Regions from separate parts of the Homo sapiens genome. Here region 2 is linked to region 1. The links come from fine-mapping of genetic effects on gene expression. A gene starts in region 1. The other region holds a variant in brackets. All regions are shown on one strand. Distances are between the middles of the regions. Region 1 holds the start of SIMC1 (SUMO interacting motifs containing 1). Region 2 overlaps ARL10 (ARF like GTPase 10).

The links. PIP is the estimated chance that this variant, and not a neighbour inherited with it, causes the effect.
Region 2: its variant is fine-mapped to the expression of SIMC1 in blood mononuclear cells (TOPMed, PIP 0.95).

Annotation. Positions count from the first base shown.
Region 1 is chr5:176,232,559-176,245,322 of GRCh38, forward strand. It overlaps SIMC1 (SUMO interacting motifs containing 1), which reads left to right and starts at 5,866. Exons shown (of 10, transcript NM_001308195.2): 1 at 5,866-6,079. The coding sequence starts at 5,951. RefSeq lists silencers at 5,538-5,657, 5,708-5,827.
Region 2 is chr5:176,365,731-176,378,494 of GRCh38, forward strand. It overlaps ARL10 (ARF like GTPase 10), which reads left to right. Exons shown (of 4, transcript NM_173664.6): 1 at 1-16; 2 at 650-851; 3 at 3,077-3,252; 4 at 5,992-12,764. The coding sequence ends at 6,165. MIR1271 (microRNA 1271) reads left to right here and starts at 2,216; the gene lies at 2,216-2,301. RefSeq lists a silencer at 1-11. The variant C/T (reference allele first, on the strand shown) is at 7,631.

The DNA.
Region 1 (12,764 bases):
TAAGTATGTGTAGTAAGTAAGTATGTTTTGAAGGATTTACAAGAAACTAATAAAGGTATTTAGTGTTAGGAAGAAGAACTAGGAAAGAGAGGGTGGCTTTCAACTTTCACTTTTCATTTTGTAAGTTTTGGTAGCAAGAATTTACTGAACTCACAAGATGTTTCTTTTAGTTTTACAAACTGTTCAATGAGGGATACCAAGAATGGGAGAACGTGGTATATTTTTTTTGCTTGCTTCTTTGTGGTTTTCTATATAAAGCAAATACGCTATTTTAAAATATGAGCCAATAGACAATATGGATACTATAGATCCATGTTCACTGACACAGAAAACCATAAGGACATATTAATTTAAGAAAACCAACTGTGATGCAATATGCATAGTCTGATCCCATTTATGTAAAAATTTTGCACATGTGAGTATCGGCCATTTAGAGATATCTAGAAAGATGTTATCAAAATATGATGGAGTTACACATTCTGCTTCGTAACCATTCTCAATTGCTTTAACTTTCTCAAATGAGGATTCTTCAAACATAGGGAATGAAACAAAATTTTTACAAAGGCCTTGATATCACAGCAAATTTGAAGATGCGAAGGAAGCAGGGAGAAAGTATAAGAAAATGATTTAAATAAAGTTATGTAAACTGAGAGGCCGCCTGCTGAAGCAATCCAGTGGAAAAGCTAAGAGTGCCCTGAAACTGGAAGATTAGACCTGGAATCCCACAGAAGGGACAGAATGTTCCCTAGAGCAGGGAGAAACTTGAGCTAGCTGGCTTTAGCATAAACAAAAGCGGGTCTGCAGGCACTGACCCTGCCATGTAATGAAAAATAGAAAAAAGAAAAACTATTTTAAAGATGAATAACCACCAAAAAAAAAAATCCCCATTAATAAGGCAGGAAGCTTTGTATTTAGAATGTTTTTACCACAAATGATGGTTTCAAATCTCAATAGCAGGCTGCGTGCGGTGGCTCACTCCTGTAATCCCAGCACTTTGGGAGGCCAAGGCAGGCGGATCACAAGGTCAGGAGTTCAAGACCAGACTGGTCAACACAGTGAAACCCCGTCTCTACTGAAAAAAAAAAAAAAATACAAAAATTAGCCGGGCATGGTGGCGTGCATGCCCAGCTACTCCCAGCTACTCGGGAGGCTGAGGCATGAGAATCGCTTGAACCCAGGAGGCGGAGGTTGTGGTGAGCCAAGATCGTGCCACTGCACTGCAGCCTGGGCGATAGAGTGAGACTTCGTCTCAAAAATAAACAACTCTATACCAGAGCAGATATGTTATTCGATAAAGCTAAAAATGTATTTAATTTTAGTAAGTACACATGAATTCAGGTAAATACACAGAAGCAGCTCTAGAGGAATAAACATAACAGCACTGAAAAGGGGGAATTGCGAATCTGGATGGGGGAAGTGGCAAAAGGGGCCTTTAGCCTTGTCTGTAATGCTTTTAAATTTTATAAAAGAAAACCATGCACATAGTGTGTTCTATTTTGGTAAAATAGACGTAACACAAAATTTACCATTATAACCATTTTAAATATACAATTCGGCGGCATTAGTTCATTCACAAAGTTGTGCAACCATCACCACCATCCATTTCCAGAACTCTTTGTCATCCCAAGCTGAAACTCAATACCCATTAAACAATAACTCCCCATTCTCCCCTTCCCCAACCCCTGAAAACCATTATTCCATTATCTGTCTCTGTGAATTTGCCTATTCTAGGTACTTCATAAACATGGAATTGTATGATATTTGTCCTTTTGTATCTGGCTTATTTCACTTAGCATAATATTCTCAAGGTTCATCCATGTGACATGTTATCAGAATTTAATTCCTTTCCATGGCTGAATATATTATTCTATTATATGTATATACCACTTTTTTTAATCCATTCATCTGCTGAGGAAGACCTGTTTCTACCTTTTGGCTATTACAAATAATGCTGCTGTGAAGATTTGCAGACGAGTACCTGTTTGAGTCCCGTTTTCAGTTTTTCTGGGCAAATATCTAGGAGTAGAATTGTTGAATCATACGGTAATTCTACATCTAACTTTTTGAGAAACTGCCAAACTATTTTTCACAGCTGCTTCTCCATTTTACATCCCTACCAGCAACGCACAGTGGTTCCAGTTTCTCCATACCCTTCCCAAATTTGTTTTCTGTTTTTTAAAAAAATAGCCATCCTAAATGGGTATAAAGTAGGATCTCAATGTGGTTTTGATTTGCATCTTCACACATTTTTTCATGTATGAATTTTTCATTAAAAATTATTTTAAAAGAAAAGAAACAATTTTTTCTTCATTAACCAACTAGTGATACCTCCTTAACTGCTAAGCTCTTTGAGAACAGAGGTAATAGCTGTCCTGCTCACTGCTTTATCCCCGACCCCTAACATAAGCCTAGCATCTAGCAGGTACTCACCAAATACAGTATTCACTGGATGCATAAAATACTACATTAGCCTCTCAATTTACATGAGACTAATGTATGGTTTGGGGGGAGTGAGTCTATGAAAAAGTGTCACCTTAAAAAAAATACACCAATTTCTGAAAAACATACAATCACTTTGGAAGTCTTGGGTAAACGGCACACTTCAAGACAAATCCAGGATGGCCAAGGAAACATAAGTGACATTACTTATAGTTTTAAGGAGGGCAACTTCACAGCCAGTATTCATCCCACCTGGGTTGCCAAGTAAGGGCAGGGTACTTTTAAGCTGTTCTCGTATTATACCACCAGGGGTCCTGAGTTTCCTGTATTTCAGGCAGGATGGCTGATGAGAAAGATACAATCTGAACACTCTTGTGTCTTGCCACAGTAGAGTAGGCCAGAGCTTGGCTAGAATCAGCAGCAGAGGCCAAAAGAAGTAGAGGGATGCAGGAGATGTTTAGGAGGTAAAACAGACAGGACTTGTTGAGGAAAGGGGAGAGATCAAGTGCAATGCTCAGGTTTTTCACTTCAGCAATTGCTGGCTGGTGGAGCCATCACCATAAGACACACAAAGAGAGCAGGCTTTTTTGTGGGTGTGGGGAGCATAAAGGTGAGTTTGGCTTTAGACATATTCAACCTGAGAGGCCTACGAGCTTCAGCAGATGTTTGGATGTATACAACTGGAGTTTTAAGGACAGGACTGGGCTGAGATAAACTCGTGGCAGCCATTGGCATAAAACCAATCACTGAAGCCAGGGAATAGTTGAGATTGTAGAGGGAAGAGGTCCCGTGTGAAAAGGTGGCCAATGTCAGGACTCTAAGGGACATCAAGAGTTTAAGGAGTGAGTAGAGGAGTAGGCGTCAGCTAAGGAGACTAAAAAAAAGTGGTGAGAGAAGTACAGCATCACAGAAACCTACAGAAGACAGTGTTTCAGCAAGCAGGTAGTCAGACACACCAAATGGTTGTGTATTTTGTTTCGTTTTGTTTTATTGAGACAGGGTCTCACCCTATTGCCCCGACTGGAGTGTAGGGGCAGTATCATAGCTCACTGCAGCCTCCAATTCCTGGGCTCAAGGGATCCTCCTGCCTCAGCTGCCTGAGTAGCTAGGACCACAGGCATGCGCTACCACACCTGGCTAATTTGTTTTTATTTTTGTAGAGACAGGGTCTTGCTATATTGCCCAGGCTAGTCTCAAACTCCTGGCCTCAAGCTATTCTCCCAACTCGGCCTCCCAAAGTGCTGGGATTACAGGTGTGAGAGATCACAACCCTAAATGTTTAATAGCTTTAGATGAAGACAACTTAATGAATCCTTTCACAAGGGTGACTTCACCCATTGGACCAGAATGTCTGAAATCTGCTGGGCATAAACTCCCCGTCCACCAGACCAGTGGTTCTCACAGTGTGGTCCCCAGACTAGCAGCATCCACATCACCTGGGCACTTGTTAGAAATGCAAATTTCAGGGCCCCACCCCCAAAATTCTTTTTCTCAATCAGAAAATCTGATGTGTGATTGTTAGTTCATTCTCGAATTGCTATAAAGAAATACCTGAGACTGAGTAATTTATAAAGAAAAGGGGTTTAATTGGCTCACGGTTGTGCAAGCAGTACAGGAAGCATAGTAGCATCTGCTTCTGGGGAGGTCTCAGGAACCTTACTATCAAGACGGAAGGCGAAGGGGGAGTGGACATCACATGGGGAAAGGGGCGAGGTGGGAGGTGCCACACACTTTTAAACAACCAGATCTCAAGAGAACTCGTTATCACAAGGACCGTACCAAAGGGATGGTACTAAACCATTCATAAGAAACCACCCCCATGATCCAATCACCTCCCACCAGTCCCCACCTCTAATATCGGGGATTACAATTCAACATGAGACTTGGGTGGGGACGCAGATCCAAACCATACCAGCAACCCAGCAATCTGTATTTTGTTGAGTTTTTTGTTTTTGTTTTTTTGAGATGGAGCCTTGCTCTGTCCCCCAGGCTGGAGTGCAATGGCACGATCTCGGCTCACTGCAACCTCCGCCTCCCAGATTCAAGCAATTCTCCTGCCTCAGCTTCCCAAGTAGCTGGGATTACAGGCGCCTGCCACCATGCCCAGCTAATTTTTGTATTTTTAGTAGAGACGAGGTGGGCCAGGCTGGTCTCGAACTCCTGACCTCAAGTGATCCACCCGCCTCGGCCTCCCAGAGTGCTGAGATTACAGGCGTGAGCCGCCGCACCCGGCCGCAATCTGTCTTAACAAACACTCTAGGGGATTCTGATGCTCACCAAAGTGTGAAAAACACTGCATTAGACAGTGCTTGGAGAGCACCTGATAACCATTCCTTTAGGAACAAATTCCCCTCCTATTAAACACATTATTCTTTGGATCTGTTAACATATTTTGCAAAACTTCTGGAGCCTGAGCAGCAGGATTTTGTCAATACCCCACATTTAGTGTACCAATAGGTCCTATCTTGATTTTAATGGTCCTGCCCTAAAACCAACCAACCAGCCAACTACCCACCGATTCCTCTACTGGGGACAACCTTTTTCACCTTTATAACTTCTGCTTATTCACAACATCTAATTATTCATGGCCTCTGCTACTTCATGGCTTCTTTTGTGCACCTTTTCAGCTTCTGATCCTGATACCAACTGAACAACTGTCTACGTCAAACTTGTTTAACTCCCTGTTTAACATTAAGAGATTTTTTTTTTCGCAACTCTTTTCCTTTAGGTCATCAGCTATCATTAGTGTATTTTATGTATGGCCCAACACAATTCTTCTTCCTGGGGAAGCCAAAAGATTGGACACCCCTGCTCTAAATCTCAGTTTAAACTCCTGAGAGACACATATTGTTGGTGAAATCGCAAACTGGTACAATTTAGGAGGGTAATTTGGCATCATTTATCAAAACTACAAAAACATGGCCTTTGCCCCAATAAGTCCGCTTTTAGGCATTTATCCTACAGATACACATGGGCGTGTGCACCAAAAAGTGGGGTCTCTCTCTCTCCCTTAGCTCGGCCAGAAGCCAGGTCACCTACCCTCGGTCACTCGGGGGCCAGGACCTCTCTCCCTGCCCCTCAGTCAAGGCCCTCTCAGTCCGGGAGGCGCTTCACACCTGGGCAGGGTGGGACTGGGCGCGCCTCACTTCACGCTTTCGTCGGTTGGAAGCAGGTGGGGAAGTCCCCGCGGCCTCGGCGTCTCGCACGCCTGGCCCCAACACCTGCCGAAGCCGGCTGCGACTCCATTTTTCTTTTTTTTTTTCCTCCTGGGAAACGGAGGACCCGCGCCGCCACGAAGCACAGCGACCCCGGCCCTGACCCCAGCCGCCCGCCGCCGGTGGGCGGGGCTTGGCGGCCCGGCGGGGCGGGGCTCGGGGCGGGGCCGGCGTGGCGGTGGCCCGGGTTGTAGCCGCCGCCGCTGCCGCCGCCCCGCCGCCGCCACCTCAGAAGCAGGAACCGAAGTCGTCGCCGCCGCCGCCACTGCCTGGGTCTTCGGTCGGGGCCCGCAGCCATGGAGGATTTCATCGTGATCTCGGACGACAGCGGCTCTGAGAGCTCCGGGGGCGCCCGCCCGGGCCGGTCGCGGAGGCCGCGCCGGGCCCTGTCGCGAACCTCCGGCGCGCTGCCCCGCCGGACCGTGGTGAGTGAGCGTCGCCTCGTTTGGGGGCGCGCGTCTTCGCGACCCTCGGCTGGGCCCGCCGCCCGCTTCCCGCCCCTGGCGCCTCACAGCTGCAGCCACTTCCCGCCTTGCCTCCTTCCGGGCCTCTCGGGCCCCGGGGAGCGCGGCGGGCCGGGGCAGGGGCCAGGGCAGGGACCGGGGAGGCCGGGCCTCCCAGGCTCAGCGCTGAAGCCCGAGAGGACTGCGGCTGGAAAGCGGCCGAGCACATGGACGAGCTCCTGGCGCGCCTGCTGCAGGGGCTGGGGTCTCAGGCCGGGGCCGCGGGCGTCCTCGGAGCCTCGGCGGGACGTGGGGGCTCGGGTGTACTGGCCGGGCCGATGCAGGAAAGCGGGAGCGCGTAATTCTTCGGCCTGTGGTGGACACAGATGTGTGCAGGGAGGTAACAGGAGCCCAGGCTGGGAGGGAGGGAAGCGCGGGCCTGGGCCAGATGGTGGCCGCGCTCCAGGGCCTGACTGCAGAGCGAGGGGCCCGATTTTGGAGTTGTACAGGAGGGCGATTTATTTCCTCAGCACTTACCCTGTACCAAGCCCTGAAGGAATAGGGAAGGAAACCTCGCGCGCTATTTCTGTTTCCCTCAGAACCCCTTCGTCTTTGTCGTTCATGAGGTGGTGAATTATCTGCCTTTCGAGAATCCTGCATCGATGTTTATTGAATCCCTACTATGAGCCAGATGTTGTAGGGGCCGGGGATACAACGGCGAACACAATATCCATGGTCCCCTCAGAAGGTGATACATCATCAGGTGGTTGTTGAGGACCTACTCAAGCGGTGGGAGGTGGAGCTTTCTCTCAGAAGGCTTCCAACGATCTCCCCAGCCTCCCAGAGCCATCCCCCGGAAACACAAGGATTATCAAGCTGATGTTATGTGTATAGATCATACAGTTTACCATGCTTCCTATGCAAATACTCGTTCAAGACGTTTCCTAGCTTCTGCTGCCCCTGTTCCCTTTCTAGCTGGTTTACAGTCCCTAAACCTCCATTGGGAACCCCTTCTGTGCCCGAGGTACAGTGCCAAGTGCTAGATGATCACTATAGAATGAATAGCATGCAAAACTAGTTAATATATATTATTTTTCAAGCAAGAGGGTTTCTCAGGACGTCTTAGAGACAAATTTAGTTGAGTTAGGCAGCTCATGAGGTAGTGAGAGAAGAGATTTCCAAGATAGAAATGACCCGACTTCATGAGTGAATGGATATATCTAGGGCTGTGGCTGAATGTATCGGACATAATAGATGCACAATAAGTATTTGTTGGATGAAGGAACGATTGAAAGAATATGGGGAGAGAGAATGGTTTAGATGGATGTTTGATAAGTATAAGAGAAGTGCATATAAAAGTAGCAGCAGGCTTGAGATGAAGGAGATGCTGAATTCAGGTTGGACCTGTTGGATTTACAGTGTTAATAGGAAATGTAGATGGATGTGGCCAGCTCAGTAGTTGGAGAAAAGGCAAGAATGGAGATATTTGGCAATCATGCAAACAGAAAGGAGTATTGAAGGCCTAATAGTGACTGAGATCATCAAGGAAAAGAGTAGAGAGAGAAAAAAGGTGGAAGGGAAAAAATACTTCTTTCCTCCTAGTTCCTCCTCATTCCTATAGCCTCTTCTCTCACTACCTGTTTAACTTTGTCCTTCCCACTTGCTTCCTTTCCTCCCAAGTGTTGTCCATTTTCCCTCATTCTGGTCCAGCTTCCTTCTTCAGTGGTCAGATGCCATGCTTATCTCAGTCTTTTGTGGTCTTTCACATACGTACATGGGCGTAGTCTCTCACTGTTTCCCTCACTTGTGACCACTCAAGCAAGCATTTTGATCTTGAGCCTTTGAGTTGAATCGAAATGAGGGGCAAGTTCCAGAGAGCAGTACCCAATTTAAATCGTGCTTCTCCAGATATTTATTCCAGCTCTCTAAAAGCTCCAAGCTTATTCTCGTTTTATCTTTTTTGCAAATTAGATAAGAGTGGTATGATAACCATGTAAAAGATCAGAGGCATTGAGAGACTTGCAAGGTTATAAAGTCTAAAAGTGCCCTTTTCTTTGTAGCTTTTCCTGAAGGCTCTGAGGTCAGAGAGACTTCTGAATCAATATCTCCAGCATAGCAACTATTTGAGTTTTGGAAAGTTCTGTCAACTCTCAGCTTTTGAGCCTGAGAACATTAATGCCTACCTAGCAGGATGGTTTTAAATTTTTAATGAGACAAATGCAAGGAAAGGATCTCATATAAATGATAGCTTTTGCCACTTTTTGTGTTGTTTCTAAGCCCAGGCCTGTCCCTCTTGAGCTTCACAGGCAATGAAATAAAAGAAGCAACTTTTACATCTTTTTTTTTTTTTTTTAATAGATATTGACTAAGGGGAAGTAACTTGCTTGAACTTGAGAAAGCCATGTCTAATGCTGAAGTTGACATTTCTGAACTCTTGATTCTTAACCTGGGCTTTAGTCTTCACTGAGTCGATGAGGTGTGTTTCTGTGTTTATCATGGCTTTTTCGTTTGGGATTTTTTGTTTTTCGTTTTTTTACTTATAAAAACAGAACATTTTCAGATGGTTAATTTTGTTGATCTAATTATACAATTTTTATAAATGTATAAAGAAGAAAATTAAAATTGCCCGTAATCTCACTATCCAAAGATAACCAATGTTAACATTTTGATGTATGTCTATGTAAATGTTTACTTGCATACACACATGTGCATACATACATACCTATGTGTCCTCCCCATACATGTTTTTATGACCTCCTCTTAATGGATATTATGCCTTCGTTTCTAAATTTTCTCTAAGAACCCAGTGAAAAATTCCCTCATAATCTTTGTACTCTTGTTCATTTGTTTATTAAGTTCCTCTTAGAAGTTAGATTGCTGAGTCAAAAGGTGTGCCCTACTTTATATGTAGCTAACCCTTGAAGAACACGGGGATTAGGGTTGCTAACCCCCCCGTGCAGTTGAAAATTTACATGTAACATTTGACTCCTCGAAAACTTAACTACCAGTGGCCTACTGTTGACTGGAAGCCTTACCAGTAACATAAGCAGTTAACTCATGTTTTGTATGTTATATGGACTCTTACGATAAAGTAAGCAAGAGAAAAATGTTAAGATCATAAGGAAGATAAAATACATTTACAGTACTATACTGCATTTGTCAATACCATAGGTTTACATCGTCTGTTTACAAGATAAATCATCTGTCTGAAATAGGGGACAACCACAGCTGCAGACCTCTATCTACGGTACATCTCAAGCGATTCAGCTTTTCTTATGTCATGACTTTTCTCTGTTTCTTGAGAGCACATCCAGCATCACTAAGCACTTTGTATGGGTTTCATGGTGTTATTCAAGGTTTACGATATTACCCTACACATGATTAAACAAGTATATGTGGAAAAAAACCCAGGAGAGAACACTTGTTACCGTGATACACAGTTTACTGGGAAGTAGTGCAGAAATTGATTAGTGTCACGTGGCGTTTTAAGTGGATCCTCACAACACTTGAGCCCACCACAGCAGCAGCAGATGTCTGTGGTAGTAGGACATTATTATCACGGTAGTACAGTGTAGTCTATGGTAAATTTTATGCAGTTGTGATACAAATTAAAAAGAAAAAAATAATGAATTTAAAAATATGCAGTTGTGAGTTAATATTGCATCTTTACATTTCTGTCAACTGCAGATGTCACCATCTATGGTCAGTAAGTGATTGTGTGCATAAATTTTGATAAAGTTTAACTTTGTATAATAGATTTGTGTTGATTTTATGGTAGTAAATGGATAAAATAGGCTAGTATCTACATATATTTTATGCATTCAGGACATATCTTTTTCTTAGTTTTTTTCAATTTTTATAGGCTGTGGAGTTCATCTGTGAGTTTTCCAAATTGTTATAAATCGCCAAAAAATTTTCCAATATATTTATTGAAAAAAACTCTCTTGTAAGTGGACCCATGCAGTTCAAACCTGTGTTGTTCATGAATCAACTGTATTGCCAAATTTCCTACAGAAATTGTGCATTAATATTCTTACCAGTGGTATATGGCCAATCATATCTCTTTCTCTGCTGCCTAGTCACCCCTAGGTATTGTTACATTATTCCATAAATATTTATTGAACACTTATTATATACCAGGCACTCTTAGAGGTGCTGGGAATACATCTATGAAAACCAAGTCCCTGCCGTCATGGAGATTTCATTTTACTGAGGGGACACAGATAGTAAACAACACTATAAATGTAATGTCAGGTGATAATACAGAGTGTTAGGGGAAAAAATACGGTATTTTTGTTCTTTTAATCTTTGCTGTTTGATAGCCAGATTCCATAAGATGTCATTATTTTTTATTTTTTTATTATGATTCATTTATTCAATAAATATTTATTGAGCATATGCTGTAACCCTGGGGACCAGAGGTGAACAAGATGATAATGGAACTACATTCTACTGTGGAAAGATAGGCAGTAAACAAACTAACAAATAAGAGAACAGTATAATAGTAACTTTGGTGGGATTGGGAACATTTGATTGTGTTTTCAGAGAAGGCCTCTCTGAAGAGTTAATATTTGACCTGAGACTAAAATGACAACAAATTAGTTATAAGATCTAGATGAATAAGGCATTGTCAAAGGGAACAACAAAACCAAAAGTTTGGAGGCGGGAATGAGCATGACTTACTGGAAGAATGGAAAGCCAGTGAGGCTGCAATGTAACGACTGATGGACAGAGTCAGAAGAGATGAGAAGTAGGTAGGTTAGGTTATAGGGCTTTGGAGACCACAATAAGGGATTTGGATTTTATTGTAATACAGTAAGAAATCTTTGAAGGTTTAAGCAGGACAGTGACATGATTTGATTTACTTTTTTTTTTTTTGGAGATGGAGTCTTGCTCTGTTGCGTTGCCCAGGCTGTAGTGCAGTGGTGCGATCTCGGCTCACTGCAACCCCCACTTCCCAGGTTCAAGCAATTTCCCCCACCTCAGCCTCCCGAGTAGCCGGGACTACAAGCACACCACCACGCTTGACTAATTTTTTGTATTTTAGTAGAGACGGGGTTTCACCATGTTGGCCAGGATGGTCTAGATCTCCTGACCTCATGATCCACCCGCCTCGGCCTCCCAAAGTGCTGGGATTACAGGCGTGAGCCACTGCACCTAGCCTTGATTTACATTTTTTAGAGATGACTTTAGCTACTGTGAAAAGAAAAGATGGTAAGGTAGGGAGACCATATAATTTATCATCCAATTGGGAAACTTTTGCAAATGAAAAGGGATGCTAACTGGACCAGGATGTCAAGCAACAGGTGAAAACTGGAACTGTCCCAAACAAAGCAGAAGTGTAGTCACCCTACTGTAAGAGGGGAAGAGTGAAATTAGGGAGATCAGTTAGAAGGTTGGCTGTAGTAGTCCAGGTCAGAAATAACTGTAGCTTGGACTGGAGTGGTGGTACAGACTGGGAGAGTGGAGGGATGTAGATATTTAGTAAATAAAATCAACAGGTCCTGATAACTTGGATGTGGATAACAAGGGAAAGGAAGGAATGAAGAAGGATGCCCTGAGTTCTGGCTTGAGCAACTGAATGCATGTTGGTGTCATGCATTGAAATGAAGCAGACTTGGGAGGAACAGGGTTAGAGGAAAGATTCAAGAGTTCTGTTTTGAAGGTATAAAACTTAACGATGCCTGTGGAATAGCCAACTGGAGATGCCAAGTATAACATTTGTACTGAGTTTAGAGCTCTGAAGAAAAGTCCTGACTAGAGATACAAATTTAGTCTTGTTAGCGCATAGGTTATAGTGAAGTCATTGACCTGGATAAAATCATCTAGGTTGAGGTGACAAGAGGAAGAACATCCAGAACCTAGCCCAAGGGAACACCATAGTGTCCCAAGGGAGGAAGAGCAGCTAGTGAGGTTGGAGATAAAGGAGTGTGCTCACATGCAGTACAGCCAGACATCTTGCTTATGTTTATTGGAAACACATAGGGTATGTGTGCAAATTCCCTATGCTTGTCCTTTGCCCATTTTTCTGTTGCAGTGTTATAATGTTTCTTTTTTTTTTTCCTTTTTTTTTTTTTTTTTTTGAGAGGGAGTTTCACTCTTGTTGCCCAGGCTGGAGTGCAATGGCGCAATCTCAGCTCACTGCAACCTCCACCTACCTGGCTCAAGTGATTCTCCTGCCTCAGACTCCCAAGCAGCTGGGATTACAGGCATGTGCCACCATGCCCAGCTAATTTTATATTTTTAGTAGAGACAGGGTTTTACCATGTTGGTCAGGCTGGTCTCAAACTCCTGACCTCAAGTGATCCACCCACCTCGGCCTCCCAAAGTGCTAGGATTACAGGCATGAGCCACCGCACCCGGCCAACATTTCTTACTCATTTGTTAAATCTACTTATATATTAAAGATTGTTATAGGTGGAACTGTATCTCCTAAAAAGATGTGCTGAAGTTCTAACCCCCCACTACCTCAGATTGTGACCTTATTTAGAAATAGGGTCATTGGCAGATATAATCAGTGAAGATGAGGTTGTGCCGAGTAGAGTGAACCCTTAATCCAACATGACTACTGTCCTTATGAGAAGAACATGTGAAGACACAGGGGAAGAACGCCATGTGACAGTGGAAGCAGAAACCGAAGTTATGCAGCTGCAAGCCAAGGAACACC
Region 2 (12,764 bases), 130 kb after region 1:
GTGGGACGAGTGGGACGTGAGTGCCGGGCCGAGGCCTGCGGAAGGGCGGGCAGGCTGGGCTGCGACTCCGCGCATGTGGCCAAGGGGTGTGACCACGGAACGGCCCTGCTGGTGCCGGGAGCTTGGGGGGTCGAGGGCTTGGCAGCCGCAGCGCACAGGCCCCGCGCGGGTGGGCGGTCAGAGCCCGGGAACCGAGGAACGGGTGGGTGTGCTTGGGTGCGTGCGGCGCCTTGGCGCCACGCCGTCGCTCCACGCCATGAGGCTCGGGTGTTCCAGCGGGGGCCGGAGTTTGGAGGGCGCGGCTCGGGAGCATCCCGGGGCCCAGCCGGGTCGGCTCGCGCCCCTCCGGCGCCTGCGCAGTGCACCCCGCCCGGGGGTGGGGATGTCGGGAGAAACCCCATCCCCTCCCGCCTGCGGTCGGGACTCCGAGACCGGTGGAGGAAGCGGGGCGCGCGAGCGTTTAAGGAATTCGCCAAGGGTTTGGAATTCAGGACTGCAAAGGCGGCGTTCGTCCCACTCATCCAGACCATGCCTGCCTGTCCCAGGACGGGTGGAAGGCGGGCCTGGGCCCTCTGGTGCCTTCGGTCTTCCCTCGGGAAAGGTCCTTCGGGAGGCCGCCAGCCGCAACCTTACCTCCGCTTCCCCGCAGCCCGAGGACGAGGAGGACGAGGAGCCGGCGCTGGAGGAGCTGGAACAGCGCGAGGTGCTGGTGCTGGGGCTGGATGGCGCAGGCAAGAGCACGTTCCTGCGCGTGTTGTCGGGGAAGCCACCGCTGGAAGGCCACATCCCCACCTGGGGCTTCAACTCCGTGCGTCTGCCCACCAAGGACTTTGAGGTGGACCTGCTAGAAAGTGAGCGGACACCCTACCCCATCTCCCCGTCTCCTCTACTGGACCAGTCCTGGATTCTCTGCAGGGAAGGGGGCTTCCAAAATGCATGTCTAAGCAGCACATTCCCCTCTACGAATCCTTCCCACCGCTCTCCGGGGCACAGGATTCAGCCCACGCTCTGTGCTCTGACATTTAGGGCCCTTCGTGATCGGGCCTCTCCAGCTGCACCGCCTGCCCCATCACCCCTACCAAAGTCGATAGGCCTAACACAGAGATACTAACAGCTAAGGGTTCATATGCCAAGCACTTGACGGGCATTGCTTAAGAAAACTCCCCTAAACAATTACATAAAACTAGAATCGGTCACTACCCTCGTTATCTCCAGAGGAAAATGAGTTCCAGCAGTAGTATCATGAATCCAAGGTCACCCACCTTTCTAGTCTTTTTTTTTTTTTTTTTTTTTTTGAGATGGAGTCTCACTGTGACACCCAGGCTGGAGTGCAATGGCGCTGTCTCGGCTCACTGCAACCTCCTCCTCCCGGGTTCAAGCGATTCTCCAGCTTCAGCCTCCTGAGCAGCTGGGATTACAGGCGCCCGCCACCACGCCCGGCTAATTTTTGTATTTTTAGTAGAGACGGGGGTTTCACCACATTGGTCAGGCTAGTCTTGAACTCCTGACCTCAAGTGATCTGCCCGCTTCGACCTCCCAAAGTGCTGGGATTACAGGCGTAAGCCATCGCACCCCACCATTCTAGTTTTTTTTTTTTGGAGACAGGGTCTCTGTCGCCCAGGCTGGAATGGCAGTGGGCAGTGGCACACCCTCCTCCACTATTGCCTGTCTGGCCCAAACTAGTGTCATCTTTCCTCTCAGCACCACAGCCTCCTCTTTGGTCTTCCTGCTTCCCCTTCTGTCCCTAGTGTCAGCTAGAGAAAACCCATGTCAGGTAATGTCACTCTTGCTTAAAGCCCTTGGGGGGCTCCCCACCCCCTCACTGTGGTCTTTGGCCCCATGTGGCCCGCCCCAGCCAGCCTCACAGCCATCTCTTTCTCCTTCTTGCAGTGCCTCAGCACCCCAGCCTTCTTTCTGTTTCCCAGACACTTCCAGCATGCTCTCCCCTCTGTCTGGAATGCTTTCCTCTGCCTCTTCCCATGGCTGGCTCCTTCTCATCATCCCACTCAGCTCACATGCCACTTCCTTGATGAGACCTACCCAGACCACCCAATCCAGGGCCAACCCCTGTTCCACCTCAGCCACTTTCCCTTTTTTCTGTTTTATTTCTTTCCTTTTTGAAATGTGTTGATGTCATTGCCATGTCCTTCCCAGTTAGGGAGGGAGCTCCTTGGTGCAGGGCCCCTGCTTGCCTTGCTCACCTCTGTATCTGCAGCACCCAGATCAGTGCTTGGCACCTAGCAAGCACTCAGTAAATATTTGTTGAGTGCCTGCTATGTGCCAGGCATTGTGCTGAGGGCTTTGTGGGGATTCAGAGGTAAGTGCCTCTGACTCTCACAGCTTAGAATCCTCAAGTGTCAGAAACATAGCCAGAAACACTAGGGTGCGGGGTGACCAATGGGACTGTGCAGAGGAGCAGAGAGGAAAAGAAAGGTGATCCAGGCTGGGGGACTGTGTTGGCAACCATGTGTTCATAGGATGAAATATGACATTTCCAAGGGAAAAGAAGGGGATGGGGGAAACTGAATGGAGAATGGCTGTGTATAGGCAGGGCAGGGGGTCCTGAGTTTTCTAGACAATAGGACTCCTGGCTCCTGTCACAGCCATCACTGACAGTTTTGAACCTGTAGGAGAAAGCTAGGAATTAGCAAGAGGCAAAGCCAGACAACCCAGGGGAGAGAACTGAAGACTTCCATTTACTGAGCACCTGTGTGTCAGTCCCGTGAAAGGTACATCGCACGTGGTACCTGTGGGTTTTACTGCAACAACCCGTTAGGAAAGTTCAGTGAGGAGACTGGTGCTTAAAGCTAGGGACTTGCCCCAAGAGACCCGCCTATCAGAGCTAGAGCTAAATCCAGTCTGAGTAGCTGCGGAAACTGCGGTCTTTTCCTTGCCCCCGGCTGGTGGAAGCTCACTAAGCTAGAAGCAGGGTGGGGTGGGGGCTGTGGGCAGTGAGCGGGGGCCCGGGGTGGGGTGGGGGCTGTGGGCAGTGAGCGGGGGCCCGGGGTGGGGTGGGGGCTGTGGGCAGTGAGCGGGGGCCCGGGAGGCTCTGAGCTGGCCCCTGGCCTCTCCTCAGTTGGGGGCAGCCAGAACCTGCGCTTCTACTGGAAGGAGTTTGTGAGCGAGGTGGATGTGCTGGTGTTTGTGGTGGACTCGGCTGACCGACTGCGGCTGCCCTGGGCCCGACAGGAGCTGCACAAGCTGCTGGACAAGGACCCTGACCTGCCTGTCGTCGTGGTGGCCAACAAGCAGGTGAGGGCTGTGAGAGGGCAGCTCGGTCCAGGTGACATCCACTCAGAGATGCTTGGGCAGGGGCAAGGAGCGCTGCCTGGGCCCATGGCCTGGAGAGGGTGGCTGAGATGCTGCCCCCACCTCTTCTACCTATGCCCTGTCCTGATCCCTGCCTCTGTCTTCCTTCCTCTTTGCCTCCCTATCATCTCGTACTCTGGAGAGATGAGAAAAATAATTATTAAGTGCCTCCTATATGCCAGGCATGGTGTTTTGTTTTTGTTTTTTTTTTGAGACAGAGTCTTGTTCTGTCGCCCAGGCTGGAATGCAGTGGTGTGATCTCGGCTCACTGCAACCTCCACCTCCCGGGTTCAAGCAATTCTTGTGCCTCAGCCTTCCGAGTAGCTGGGATTACAGGTATGTGCCACCACACCCAGCCAATTTTTGTATTTTTAGTAGAGGTGGAGTTTTGCCATGTTGGCCAGGCTGGTCTTGAACTCCTGACCTCAAGTGATCCGCCCGCCTCAGCTTCCCAAAGTGCTGGAATTATAGGCATGAGTCACTGTGTCTGGCCCCCAGGTGTGGTTTTGAATAACATTTCTTCTTATGCTTCTGTTGACCCTATAAAGTATGGGATGCTATTCCCATTTTATAGATGGGACAGGCTAGTCTTATAATCTTTCCAAGGTTGTACATCTTGAGAGTAATAGAATTGGTCCAGGCGTGGTGGCTCAAACCTCTACCTCCAACACTTTGAGAGGCCAAGGAAGGTGGATCATTTGATTCCAGGAGTTCGAGACCAGCCTGGGCAACATGGTGAAACTCCGTCTCTACAAAAAAAATGCAAAAAATTAACTGGGTGTGGTGGTGCCTGCCTATAGTGCCAGCTACTTTAGAGGCTGAGGCAGAAAGATCACTTGAACCCAGGAGGTCGAGGCTGCAGTGAGCTGTGATCACACTACTGCACTCCAGCCTGGGTGACACAGCGAGACCCTATCTCAAAAAAAAAAAAAAAAATAGTGGAATTGGGACGTGTAATGCTAAAGCTGTACCTTTTCCACTCTGCTATGCCCTTGCAAATTCTGGCTCTAGATCAGAGAGCTGAAGCTGGTAACTGATGAGAGGTAGAACAGGTTAAATAACAGCTAACATTTATTGTGTGCTTACGGTGTGCCATACATGTGGTAAGCACCTGACAATCATGACCTCACTTCCCTCTAAATACCTCGTGATAGGCCCTGCTGTTACACTAAATACCTGGAGTTGCAGCTGGCATGTGGCAAAGCCCAAACTTGAACTCAGATATTCTTCAAAGTTCCTCCTCTTAACCAGTGTGCTGTACCTCTCTTGGGTGCCAGAGAGTCGCCTTGGGCCCAGGAACCCTCAGTATCACAGACCTTGGGTCCCATTCTCAATATCAGGTGAAACTGCCAGAGTACAGAGTCTGATCATATTTCCTGTGGCCTAAACTCAGGTGCCTCTGAGAGCTGTGGGACCTGTTTCCAACTTGACATGGAGAGAGACTGTATGTCTTCGACCTCAGATTCCCCAACCTATTAGGAAACATTTGACAATTATTTATAAATAGGGTGACTGTATGTCCTTTTCTGTCCAAGACAGTCCCCATTTACGACTCTTGTTCTGGCACTATTAATAGTGCCCGCTCTGAGCCTCAGATTGCCCCAGTTTGGACCAGGAATCACATCATGTCCTATTTATAAACTAATTTATAGCAGTTTTGAACCTGTAGGAGACAACATCTAAGGTCCCAGCAGTCTCTGAATTGCTCCAGGAAGAATCATTTAAATCTTGGGCCAGGGTTGAAATTACAACATACCATCACCAGTCATGCTGTGTAGTGGTCCCTTGTTTTCCTCCAGCTAGTTTCTAGAGGTCTTGTCTGGAAGTGATCCTACTGTATCATCTCTCCATGACTGAGTTTAGGAAACTTGGTTATCAAACCAACCTGAGTTGGCACCTGGCTCTACCACCTATCACTGTTACCTTAGCTCAATGATGTCACCTCCCTGAGCTACTTTTCTCATCAATTAAGTGTGGACTGTGAACATTAAATAAGCTGAAGTATATACGGGCCTATCTACAATGCTTGACACATAGGAAGTGCTCTATTTCTAGCCGGGCGTGGTGGCTCATGCCTGTAATCCCAGCACTTTGGGAGGCTGAGGCAGGTGGATCACCTGAGGTCAGGAGTTCGAGACCAGCCTGGCCAGCACGGCGAAACCCCGTCTCTACTAAAAATACAAAAATTAGCCAGGCGTGGTGGCTCACACCTGTAGTCCCAGCTACTAGGGAGGCTGAAGCAGGAGAATCGCTTCAGGATTCCACCACAGGAGGTGGAGGTTGCAGTGAGCCAAGATCGTGCCACTGCACTCCAGCCTGGGTGACAGAGCAAAACTCCGTCTCAAAACAGTGGCTAATGATGCAATGAAAAGAGGTTGGTACAAAGGAGAGCCCAGGGTGAGGGAGAGAGCATTGAGTTTAGGCCAAGGGGTCCAGAGGCTACTTCTGGGAACTTGGGGCCTGATATTCCCGGGGATAGCCTAAGAACAGTGTGTTTCCTGATATTCCCGGGGATAGCCTAAGAACAGTGTGTTTCCTGATATTCCCGGGGATAGCCTAAGAACAGTGTGTTTCCTGATATTCCCGGGGATAGCCTAAGAACAGTGTGTTTCATGAACGACAAGGGTGTCAGTGTGTTAGGAAATGCTGCCAGCTGTGTTCGGACTTCTGTGTCTCACCCAGGACCTGAGCGAGGCCATGAGTATGGGGGAGCTGCAGCGGGAGCTGGGTCTACAGGCTATCGATAACCAGCGGGAGGTTTTCCTCTTGGCAGCCAGCATTGCCCCTGCAGGACCCACCTTTGAAGAGCCTGGCACCGTGCACATCTGGAAACTGCTCTTGGAGCTCCTCTCCTAGGCTGGAGCTCTCCTGCTTGCCACCTGCCTGTCAAGACCATAGTTGTACTGCTGCTGCTTCATTGCCAGACTGGGCCTGGGGCAAGAGCCACATGGCAGCATTTCCCTTTTCCCCTCCTTTGCCTTTCAAGAGCAGGGCCTGGGCAAGGCCAAGAACCATGCAGAAGCCTTCCTGGTGAGGTGGCCGTGAAGCCGAAGCAGGGAGGTGGGTGAGACAGAGGGTGGGGAGGATAGTGTCTGGCTCATTCCAGGCTGGAATGTGGATCCAGCTTTCCCTTCTCTTACCTGTACAGTGAGATGCTCAGTGGGCTCAATCCTCCACTACAGGTCCCGGTACCTGAGGAACCAGTGTAGGTGTCAGAAATACTCCTAGAGCCTCAAGGTCTCCCAGTCCAGAAACAGTCTGGTGACGTCATGCCCTTCTCATGTGGGCAGCTTCTGAGTGGTGACACAGCAAGCCTTTGTTCCTGTCCTGCATTGTCCAGCCCCAGCTCCACCTAAGTGACTTGTGGCCTTGTGCAATCTCTGCCTCTCTGACCCCAGGGCCATTATTTTTAAAGGGAGGTGGTTTCCTAATTCGGAGATGCCTTTCCCAGCCATGGGAGTGTGAAGTGCTAGGATGAACCTGGCCATCCTAGCAAGGAGCTTTCTGAAGACCTCCCTGCCTTTCCCTGAGCCCAGGCCTGGCCTGCCAGCCTCTCTTGACTACAGAATAACTGATATTCACCCACCAAACAGAAAAAGTGAAGGCTGGGTTTTTCCCCTCTAATCTGGAGACAAGCTGCTGCTCTCGTACTAACTGTGCCAGTGCCCATGTTTACAGAAGTCAGGGGAAGGAAGGAGCCTGTGTCCCTGGGACGACAGTCAACTGGAGCTAGGTGTTGACCTCAGAACTGCATTTTATTTATTAATTTATAAGCAGAACAGGCCAGAGTTCTAGGCTCTGTTTCTAGGTGCTGTTTTCAAAACCCCAGATGACAGTCATAGAAAATTTGGAACTTAGGAAAATAGCTGGAATCATGAATGACAATGAGATAACATACAGATGTCAGTGGAGACAAAGTTGTGGGTTCCTCCTCCCACCTGGCTTTGAGGCTGTCGTCGATATCATAGTACTTTACATGGATTCACATGAACTGAAACGCCACCACTTGGCCCAGGATGTTGAAAGGGTGCAAATTCCTTCTGGGTAGATAAGAAATGACTCTGGGAGAGGATTTCCCTTATGTGAATCTAGGTAAAAAGATGGAAAAAAATTGTATTATGTGATCCTAAGGACAGGAATAGCAGACCAGCCAACGGGATGGCCTTGGGTACATCACTCAGCCTTTCTGGACCCAATTTTTCCCCAGTGAAAGCCAAGTTGGACTGAATTTCTGGAGTTCTCATCAGTGCACATTCCATAGTTCTCCAGTGCTTGGCGATCAGCCCAATTGAAGGACTGGCTCTGTACTGACACTTATTAT[C/T]GGTACAGGCAAAGAGGAGCCTGTTGTCTGTTAGGGACCACTAAATCAACAACCACAAATGGATTTTTTTTTTAAGAGGAGCTGTGCACCTCAATTTGCTGTCTAGTTGAGAATAGAGATTGTGTGCCTTCATTTCATTTGACATTTACCCAGCATGCCTCAGTTCCACACCGTGACCAGTGTAAGAAGAGGAACTATGATAAAAACAGTTCAACAAGCCGCAAGGAGGGTGGGAAATTCTGAAGTCCAGAAGCGAGTGTGATCTTTGGAATAGTGGCTGCTGTGCCCTTGGGCGCCATTTGAAGAATCACTGTTCTTGAAAGTGCTGGTTCACTTTCTGCAGTAAGAAGTGATTTATGGGCTTTTATGTAAAATTTTAAGAATGACTTGGGTTTCAGAGTAGCCTTTGAAACTTTGCTGGCAGCTTTTCATTTTGTCATTGGAAGGCTAAGAGACTTTTCTCCTTTGTTCTATGAACTCCTTGTTCTTCAGGGCTTGAAGGCAAAAAAACCTTAGACAACTTTAACGAAGTTTAAAAAGTATGTTCTGTTTTTGAGCAGAAAAAAGATTCGTGAACTGGTTAGTACTTAGCACCAAAAGCAGTTCAGAATGCTCAGCCCCACAATGTGTGTAGGCTACATTTATAGCCAGAGAAACGAAAATAACTTAGGTTGCCTGATTGGCTGCAGTCTGGCATTTGCCTTACCTGAACATGTTTTAGCAGCCTTCAGCCGACGATTGACTGAAGGTTTGGCTGCTGTGATTGGCTAAAATTCGGCTACTTGTTAGAAGAACATACTTTTAGGTTAGGTTACGAGTTGTTTACACGTTAAGTTACAATTCACTGTGTACAGAGGCAGCTTTAGGCCAGACTTAATTCAGCTTCACAGTGTCCCTCATTTTGCTCAGCCCCTTAATTTTGAGAGATTGACCAAAATCCCACGCACTGACACTACCTTCTGTCACTATTTGACCTCATTATGGAACTCACAGTTTACAATGTTAAATCAGTTAGCGGATTCTGTATGTCTTCATGTTTCTGTTACTCTAACCGTAATGAGACCATTTGAGGTACAAAGGATGACTGCATTGGTGTACTTAAGACTACAACACATCAGTGGGGACCTTAGGATGGCTATCAGGAGTGTAATACCAAGAAACTGGAATGCATCCCTTAATATGAGTCTCCACAAACCAAACTGATTGGAATCAAACAACTCAAGTTCAGACGATAAAAATAGTTCAACAGCGTGCAAGCTCTGCTGCTCATAGCCTGTTCAGGGTATAATGGCAATTAAGGACATAGTTCACTATGAAGTACCTTAATTGTAAAGTGTTTGATTTTTTAGTTAGCTTTTGGTAACACAAGTCATGGTGATTGGGATACCCACTAAAAGAAACATGAAGATTAGAAAACCTTGAACAGCTAAGCTTGCTGTCTACCATTCAGGATGCCTGCAAACCAACCACTAGCTGCTCCTGCAAACACATTATGTGTTCCTTTTCCCTGAGAAATATCCTTGATGTGTTTGGTGGCAGTATCTACAGAAGCGGCAGCCACCACCGCCTTTTGAAGCTCTCCATAGTAGTAGAATCAGGAAAGATAAGCACAGCGTTCAGTTTTGTTCAGCACCATACACAAGCTCCTAGCTGGGCAAAGGAAATCTAAAGCTGCATGAAGTTCCATTACGTGTTTTTGTTGAACACAGGTGGCCTCATCCATCCATCCATCCATCCATCCATCCATCCCTCCATCCGTCCACCCGTCCACCCGTCCACCCATCCACCCACCCACCCATCCATCCACCCACCCACCCACCCATCCACCCATCCATCCATCCATCCACTCATCCACCCATCCACCCATCCATCCATCCATCCATCCATCCTTCCATCCATCCACCCATCCACCCATCCATCCATCCACCCATCCATCCATCCATCCATCCATCCATCCATCCATCCATCCATCCATCATCCACCCATCCATCCATCCATCCATCCATCTGTGGCTTCTACCTGTGCGAATCTCTGTGCTACAAAATTCTTTTCAATTTAGCATTAACTTTAATTTCCATACAGTTGGCACCTCACTGCCGCCAAAAGTGAGTCCGCAGGAACTCCACTGGAATATTTGCTCAGGGGAAACTAACTAATCATCTGTTTCAAGGTTGGTATTCATTTTAGTCTTTGACCTCTGATTATGGGGACTTTCAGGGAAAGCTGTTTGCAAGGTGAGCATGAATCAGGTGAAACAGCAAGATCTGAAGTCAGGACAGAGTAAGCAAATTATCCACAGACCTAATATGTACCCTCTGAAGCTGGAAAGTGGGGGCCACCTGGTAGCATTTGAGCAGGGGTCACTTATGTTCCCCCATAAGTCTGCACAGCTCCTAAACAAGGTCCAGTGGGCAACTTATTTTTATGTGGTCCCTTTATAGCATGCTGTAAGGGTGCATAACCACAGCCAGTGAGAAGGAACCCTACTGGATTTAACCCAGTGACATTATATAAGCAATCGCTTGGAGCCACATAGGTAGTTCCCAGGTCCTGAATATGTGGTGCCTGAAAGCATAGGTGTAGGCAGTGTTCCTTGCATAGGCATTACCTGGACAGGTTTTTTTCCATATTGGCACTTATTAATTGAAAAGGTCAGGGTACCACTTCCAATGAGTGTAGGGAAGCAAGCAGTAGTGGTGTTTAGAATATCAAGGTTAGCTGCTGGATGCGGTGGCTCACGCCTGTAATCCCAGCACTCTGGGAGGCTGAGGTGGACGGATCACGAGGTCAGGAGATCGAGACAATCCTGGCTAACACAGTGAAACCCTGTCTCTACTATAAAATACAAAAAATCAGCTGGGTGTGACGGCATGCGCCTGTAGTCCCACCTACTAGGGAGGCTGAGGCATGAGAATCACTTAAACTTGGGAGGCAGAGGTTGCAGTGAGCTGAGATCACGTCACTGCACTCTAGCCTGGGAGACAGAGCGAGACTCCGTCTCAAAAAAAAAAAAAAAAAAAGGTTAGCATTCCACTCTTCCTTTGGGGTTTCAGGGTGACTTATTGGGAAAATGGAGAGATACTGGCATTAATGGAATCGTTTCCTGATTTGAGCGTTAAGTCACAAACCCAACAGGAACTCCAGTTTCTTGCTAGAGCATTAGCCTTTGCTAAAGCCGGCCCCAGATTATGGTCCCACGGATTTTCCCATAAAGAAAGGGAAAGGATTTGCGGACAGAAAATAGGAAAGAGAGGGAGAAAGATAAGATTTTTGCGATTGCAGTGAAGTCTTCATCCACATCTAGGGAAAGCTGTTCATGTCTAGGACGTGATCTGCTTCTGGGGAAAAACTTCCCTGGTTAGCTTTACCTTAAAGTCTCCAACAGGTGTGTAGTTCCAGGAGTCTGGAGAGGTCCTTTTGAGTTGTGAGATGTGGACCCAAGGTTCGAAGCCCTGAAGTTTTACCACAGTGTGGGTAATAGAAGAACTTGGTATTGTCTCTTTCTGTGAGGTTTAAGGGCACTTTTTCTCTGATACCATCTCCAGAAGACCTAGTCTCAGGTTACAGATTGTGAAGGCTTTGATGGTCCTCTGTGGGTCACAGAAAGTTTATTTTATTTTGTCAAAATACAGTGTGACATAATGCATTACAGCTTTGTAGTATTTAGTGGCATCAGCATTTAGGAGAGTAGGAACTACGTGAAGTTCTGTTAGGAGCACAGGCTTTCTAGTAACTATTTCATAGGGGTCAATCTGTGTCTGTCGTAGGAATGGATCTGATCTGCTGACCAAAGGCAATGGTTGGCTTTCTTCTTCAGAGATCAGAAAAAAATGAAATTCAAAGCCAATGGTGGTATCTTTGGCCAAGATAATCCAATCGATTCAGTTAATTTTGCCAATTTTAGTTTTAAAATATTTGTCCTTTTGACCTTTCCAGAAGACTGAGGGTGAAAGGGACAATGGTAGTACCACTGTGTTTCTAACACTTTATTTAGCTGCTTCATAGTTTGTCCAATAAAATGAGTTCCTCTGTCACTGGAGATTTTTCCAGAGATGCCCCATAAAGGAAACACATGTTCTTATAACTCCTTAGCTACTGCCATAGCATCAGCTCTCCTACACAGGAAAGCTTCTATCCAACCAGAAAACATGCCAACTATTACAAGAACATACTGATACTTAATTGAGGGTGGCAGTTGAATGAAGTCCATCTGTAAGCGTTCAAATGGTCCATCAGGTGTTGGTGGAAATACACCACTTGGAGTTTTTATTATCTTCCCTGGATTATGGGTTTGACAAACCAGATATTGGTTATAACCCATTTCAGCATTTTACAGTGGTCACACTATCAGTATTTTTTATAATCTGGATCATCTTGCTCATTTGTGAGGTGCAGAGGTTGTTTTTTGTTTTTTTGTTTTGAGACAGGATCTCACTCTGTCACCCAGGCTGGAATGCAGTGGTGCAATCATGGCTCACTACAACCTCCACCTCCAGAGATCAAGCAGTCCTCCCACCTCAGTCTCCTGAGTAGCTGGGACTACCAGTGTGCGCCACCATCCCCAGCTAATTTTTTGTAATTTTTATAGAGAGGGTTTTATCCTCTTGCCCAGGCTGGTCTTGAACTCCTGGGCTCAAGCTGTCAGTCCAGCTCAGCTTCCCAAAGTGCTGGGGTTATAGGGAAGAGCCACCGTGCCTGGCCAAGTGCAAAGCTTTTAACAATAGAAGTTTCAAGGGCTCAGGAAGGACCAGGGGGCCATCTAGGCTCTCCATGAGTTCACGCTTAACATTATGTTTACGTCTGTCAGATAACAATTTTGGTTTTCCACATCAGGTGCATTGCACTGTTAGATGGGTCATCATAAAGGTCATCAATCTAGTGGCATTCATTCAATTTGCACATCCTAACTGTTTCAGCACTATCTGATTTAGCATGAAAATCTGCCAGGGCAGTCCCTTGATATTCAGGTTCAGCTTTCCATGTATGGGCTTCAATCTTATAAGAATTTGTTATTTATTTTTCACCTTTACTCAAGATAGCTTGGAACTTATACCAATTTGTGATGGCAACAGGATAGTAGCAAGTTCATCCACTTGAGTCTGTTTTTAATAGGGGCTCCACTAGAAGTGAGAAA